Regions from separate parts of the Homo sapiens genome. Here region 1 is linked to region 2. Evidence: fine-mapped QTL for protein levels in blood plasma. Region 2 holds a variant in brackets. A gene starts in the other region. All regions are shown on their forward strands.

Region 1 (2,911 bases), not on the chromosome of region 2:
AAGCCCTGATTCAGTCCCACCACCCCCATTTCAGCTCCAGGGAGCTGGACAGACAGGGCAGGGAGTCAAACTCACCTGGGGACAGCAGCATGCGGGGACCCCCACTCCGAGAAGGCCAGCGTGTCCTCTTTGTGTCTTTTCCCATACCTGGGAGGGAAGAGGCAGCAGGGGCAAGCACTGTGCCCAGGTGCCAGCCCACCTGTTTCATATCTGCCTGTAGGCACCATCTTGCCCAGGGCACATTGGTCTAGGCCTGTTGAGCACAGATGCCCTGTTTTCCCAAGAGCAGGCCTGGAAGGGGCTGGGGCTGGGGCTGGGGATAGGGTGTGGCCAGGAATGTGGAGTGGGCCCAGGGTCCCAGGGGCTGGGATCTCTCTCCCCAACTGTGGCACACACCTAGGCCTGGTCAGCATGTTGATGTATCTACGGAGATCAGCTGCATACTGGGCCATCTGCTCTGGTGTGGCATTGTCCCCTGGGTACACTGGCTCCAGTGGGGCTCCCTGGGCACCCAGCAGTGGCTGTAGTAACAGAGCCACGCAGGTGGACAGGAGCAGCAGGGAGAGGCAGAGGCGTGCGGCAGCCATCTGAGGAGCAAGCAGAGGGGAGGTGGAGAGCCCGGGCTGCAGATTTTCCCGTGCCCAGGAAGCAGGGCCCAACTATCCAGCCCCTTAGCCCATCATCCATTTCTCCAAGCCTGGGGACAAGGGGGCAGAGCAAAGGGCCACTCCAAGCTGGCCACTCCACCTCCTAGACACTGCTCTGAAGGCACGGACAGCCTGTCCTGTGAGCAGCCCAGCAAGCCAGGGCCTCGCAAGTTAGAAAAGTATAGCAGAGAAAATGGGGATGTGAGTCCTGGAGACACGGGACTCATGACATCCAGGGCCTCATGGCTCCCAGGAGGCAGCAGCTAGTGGGAATAAGGGCATGCCAGGTCACCCACAGGGTGGGGGACACAGAATGAACTCGGGAAGCCAAGGACAGAAATCCATGGCCTTGTGGGTCTGGCCCTCCACCCTGCGATAGAGACACAGATATCGGTCCTGGAGAAGACGCTACTGTCCATGTCGTCCTGCACAGACCAGCAAAGGCACTCACACAGGGACCCCAGTCACTCACAAGGTCACAGTCACACATTCCAGTTCACAGCCATGCACACGAGTGTGCACACACACGTGCAGTCAGCAGACGGCTCTTCTAGCGTGACAGGTCTGTCCAGATGCAGAAAGCAAGACCCAAGCAGGACCTTAGGCCTCCCAAGGCCCCTGGCCCTGCAAAGCACCACCTCCTCTCCATCCCAGGCCCCAGCCTGGGGGAGGCCCCCAGAGCCCCAGGCAGGCTGAGCCCACTTACCCGGAGTCCAGAGTAAATGGGCACTAGACCAAGCGAGCACCTGCCTCAGGCCGGATGGGCCCCTGCCCTCGGCTGGGCCGCTTTATAGTCCTCAGCCCCCCAGAGTCCCCGCCTCCTGTCAGCCTCTCTCACTCCGAAGCCCTCACCCCTCCTCTCACTGTCTCCTCATACTGGCAACGCCAGTACTGAGGCCAGAGACGGGAGGGGGACAGGGCAGTTCTGTGGGTGCCAGACCAGCAGCATAACAGATAAAACTGGACCACAGTAAAAGTCTCCTGTGGGCCCCCATCACTGACACCCCTTCCCTTTGGGCACCAGAGCAGGCTTGGTTCAAGAAAGATGGGGTTCTGGGACTCGAGAGTGACTGAAAGGTTTTGGTCACAGGCCTTGGAACTAGCTCTCCTGCCTCCCAAAGATCAACCCAAATCATCCAACGGATTCTCTTGGGGCAGAAGATTGAGGCTGCAGCTGGAAGACTGAGGCTACAGCCAGAGCCTCCAGGCTGAAGAATGGAAACTCAGGCCATCCTCTGCAGCTTGCAACTAGAACAAGGTGGGAAGAGGGAAGGGGCCTCAGGTCCTCAGGCAAGGTGGAAAGGAGTGGGGTGCCAGGCTTGGAGAAACCCATTTGGTGGGTGCATAGGATGCAGAATGAGAACTCATGTGCCTGGGTTCAGGGGAAATGTTGAGGGGGGTGCCGGTTTCCAGTATCCATTTCCCTCCCCATCTCAGAGCCCCCATTCCAGGGAAGTGCTAAAAACCAGCTTCATTTGTAAAGCCTCACATTTTCCAAAGTGCTGCCAGCTCAGTCACCTCACTAAATCCCCACAACAACCCATTTTACAGATTCAGGATCTGAAATCTGCTCAGAGATGTCAAATCACTGGCCCCAAACCCCACAGCCAGTCAGACCCCAAAATTTAACTCCAAACCTGGACTGTTTTTTTTCCTAAGTGGGGCCGTCAAAGTATTGTTATAATTTCCCACTTTTTGGCTGAGAAACCTGAGGCTCACAGAGGTAAAGACGCTTGCTCAAGATCTCATAGCTACCGAGGTTCCGAATTCTGGCTTAGATTCTCAACCCCACTAATCCATCCCCACCAGAAGCCCCTGAGTCTCCCCTGCCCAGCGTCTCTTCCCAACCCCCAGTCTCCCTCCCCTGCTTAGGCCAAGGAGTGGTAACTGGCTGTGTCTGAATGACACGGTGACACCAAGTACGGAGCTAAGGACTTATGACTGCTGACGTTCTGCTGTCCCAGATCAGTATACCAAGAAGTTGGGAGATGGGGGGGACTGTTGGGGAAGAGGGGACTGGAGGTGAAACTCCAGGGATCTGGCAGGGTGGGCTTAGAGTCAGACAGACCTGGGTCCAAATCCTGGCTCTGCATTGGCTGGCTCTGTGAGCCTGGGAAAGTAATTTCTTTAGCCTCTCTGAGCTTCACTTTTCCTCTCAGTAAAATAGGCTCATCACACCCATCTGAAGATAGGGAGAATAAAGGAAGGCTCAGCAAACATCAGTGTTCTGCCTTGACCCTCTCAATTTTGATTTTGGTTAACAA
Region 2 (2,911 bases):
TATAATTCTATAGGGGAAAAAAGACAATTTGTGCTCTTATTTGTTGCCAATGGTTGCACTTCATTCTGAAAGTCATTTAATATTGAAATAAGTATCTTTCATGATTATCCTAATATAACCATTTTAGTTCTAACCCTGACAAGCAGCAAACTTTGTCCCCTGGCCCAACTTTATCAAGACGGTTGAAGTGTTTTTTTAAGTTATTCCCATTTTGCTTCTGGAAAAACTGGGCACAGGATGTTTCATGACCTTCCTCTTATGCACCCTGGGACTGAATTTGATCACAGTGACAAGCCAAACTGAGAATTTCTAAGGCCAGGAATACGGGCTGCCCTTTCTTTTAATGGACACATGGATGAAATGGTAATGTTTCCTTAGCACATTAAAAATAGTGACTAAAAAGTCGAAGTTTTTTTTTTTTCCGAATCTAATAGCTGTCTTAAATCGGGTAGAAAAGAAAGACGCAATCATTCCTTAAATGCATATTTAAAATTCACCAAGCCAAAGCCAGTCTTGCCAGATTTTGTAATCCTTTCCATAGTCTTTGTAAAGTACCTAGCTTGCCAATTAAAAAAAAAGGGGGAGGAGGAGGGAAACCTCAAGTGGTTTTTAACCACCAATAACAAAAACGACAAAGGTATTTTGAAACATCAGTTGCTGCTAGTTAGGAGCTAGCATGGATGTCTCTGGCTCAAAGATAATTCTTGCTCATGTTGGGTTTTTTTTTATTGCAACAGTATAAAATCAGATAAAGATAAATAAAATGAAATGGAAGCACAGAGATATTTGCTCTAAATATGGCTAAAGTGAATTTGTGGCTTGATGCCACTTTTCGCAGCTTTGTTCTCCCTAATCTAATTATGCCTTGAAGTTGTCTGCATTTGAGAAATTAATACTTTGATGAAATATCTAGCCAGTTCCATAAGCAGCAGAGGGAGAGGAAAGGGAAACATATATATAGTATTAACTCTGCCAGCCTTCAACCACCACAAGACCTCCTGGGCACAACAGTGGCCCACTAATAAAATGAAATGATAGCATATGTGCTTTGTTTAATTTTGATGTCTTCATAATGTATTACACAATTAGATTGATTTGACAATTTCCATTATGCTTGATAAAATATTTATTGAGCCCTGAAGATGATAACTCTTATCTAACCACCATTTGTTCTACAGATGTGACATATTTAATATATAAGTAACATCACTCAGATCTATGTTCCAGTTAGCCCATTACATTTTATTTGCAGAGTACAGTGTAAAGTCATCAATAACGCTTTG[A/T]TAGATCCCTGTCTGCCCGGTGCTTGACAGGTGCGGAGAGAGCTTGCTCACATTCAGCGGCAGGGGCACATCAATCATGGCCAAGAAATTTACTGTGTGAAATTGGCCTCATCTGTCTCAATGCTTGATGCAGATCGAGTTTGTTCTTCTGATAGAGGTGTCGTTAGTCACCTAAGCATGCCTCCCTTGGTACTCATGCTCTCTGCAAGTAATCTTTTTTTTCTCCCCCTTCTCCCCCTTCCCTTTACATATTTTTGTGAAATTAAAATCTCGCCCTCCTGTGACCCTAATCCACATATTCTTGGCCAAAACAGGAGCCAGGTGACCTTTGAGATTACCCTTGTGAAGCCTTGCAGGTTGAGTGGAAGAAGATGCTATTTTTTGTTGATGCTGTTCTTTTTTTTTTTCTTTTTCTCCCCTAACCTCACAGGCAACATGTTCCACTGATGAGAAAACCGGCAAAGACAGGTTAGGCAGAAGAAAAGAGAGATGAGACAACGGACTGTGCCAACAAACTAAAATTTTACCTGCTGCTATGGATAAAATAGCTTTCTTTTTAGAAATACTCATGTTAATAAACTCCTACATGCGACATAATATGTGCCTAGAGGTCTGGATAAGTAAGATGTGTGTGTGTGTGTGTGTGTGTGTATATATATATATATATATATATATATATATATATATATATATACACACACACACAATTTCATTTGCAATAGGAAGTCTTCACACTGCAAAGGTCTAGGTAGATTCCTAGTTAAATGGCATTTCAAATTAAGGCATCTACCCCTGTCAAAGGAGAACTCCAAATGGTAACTGGCTCCCACAACTTCGAAGTGCTGCTGAGACCCTCATCAGCTTTTATCTTTGCGCCCCGTCATTCTCCCATGGGCAAAGAATTGCACAAAAATCTTGGAGTAAACACAAACAAGTGCCAAAATGAAGACCATCAATGATCCAAATCCTTGCAAGGTATAAAAGAGAATTTTTTTCTGAGTCCCGAAGTCAAGATTGTTATAGGCTGCAGGATTTTTATGTGAGAATGGAATTGTAAGATTAATCTTTGGCCAAGAGCACTTCTCTGTTTCTTGCAAAGGATTAGCTGACTTAAACTAGAGGCTCTGCGTCCTGCTCCTGGAGCTGCAGTCAGCTGTTTTTCCTTTGTGGAGCTTCCTGATATGCCCAAACACCTTTCTTCTTAACCTTTGTAGTTATTTCAGTATTTACTTCATTCTAAATCCTTATGCAGACTTTTTTTTTGCTTTCCAAGGCAAACCTTGTAGATAGCCAATCTGTACTGTTTCCACCAAATTAATGTGAGAGCTTGTTTTAGCAACTGCAAAACAAAAGTGATACACGGCTTCAATAAGACATATTATCTTCAGAACCTGTAAAAGTTGAGACTATCTCTAGACAAAGCGCAAGCACAGGATAGTCCTACCACTGCAGTCAAAATACCACAGAAGCTACATGCCACAGCAGGATGCCTGTCGGATAGACAATTAAAGTGGCCCAGGAATGACATATCCCCTCTTGCCAACATAATTAAGGTGTATTATTTGTCAGGGAGGTCAACGGTGAACAAATGTCCTAGCAAACTGAGAATGAAAGACAGGGAAGGAGCA

Direction of the effects. Positions count from the first base shown, and alleles are read on the strand shown. Strength reflects both the effect of a copy and how common the allele is.
For the plasma level of the protein whose gene starts at base 1,409 in region 1, allele T in region 2 goes with a higher level than allele A (moderate association).

What was found. PIP is the chance, under the fine-mapping model, that this variant and not a neighbour inherited with it causes the effect. The UK Biobank Pharma Proteomics Project read protein levels with antibody pairs (Olink). The fine-mapping took linkage between variants from a reference panel, not from the people measured, so its PIPs are less certain.
Region 1: it holds the start of PPY, and the variant in region 2 is fine-mapped to the plasma level of the PPY protein (UK Biobank, PIP above 0.99).

What each region holds. Positions count from the first base shown.
Region 1 is chr17:43,941,068-43,943,978 of GRCh38, forward strand. It overlaps PPY (pancreatic polypeptide), which reads right to left and starts at 1,409. Exons shown (of 4, transcript NM_002722.5): 1 at 1,354-1,409; 2 at 397-587; 3 at 76-147. The coding sequence starts at 587.
Region 2 is chr3:169,475,173-169,478,083 of GRCh38, forward strand. All of the region lies in intron 1 of MECOM (MDS1 and EVI1 complex locus), which reads right to left. MECOM-AS1 (MECOM antisense RNA 1) reads left to right here. Exons shown (of 5, transcript NR_134932.1): 5 at 1,714-1,880. Among named protein-coding and RNA genes, the nearest start is that of MECOM-AS1, 29 kb to the left of the region's middle. The variant A/T (reference allele first, on the strand shown) is at 1,284.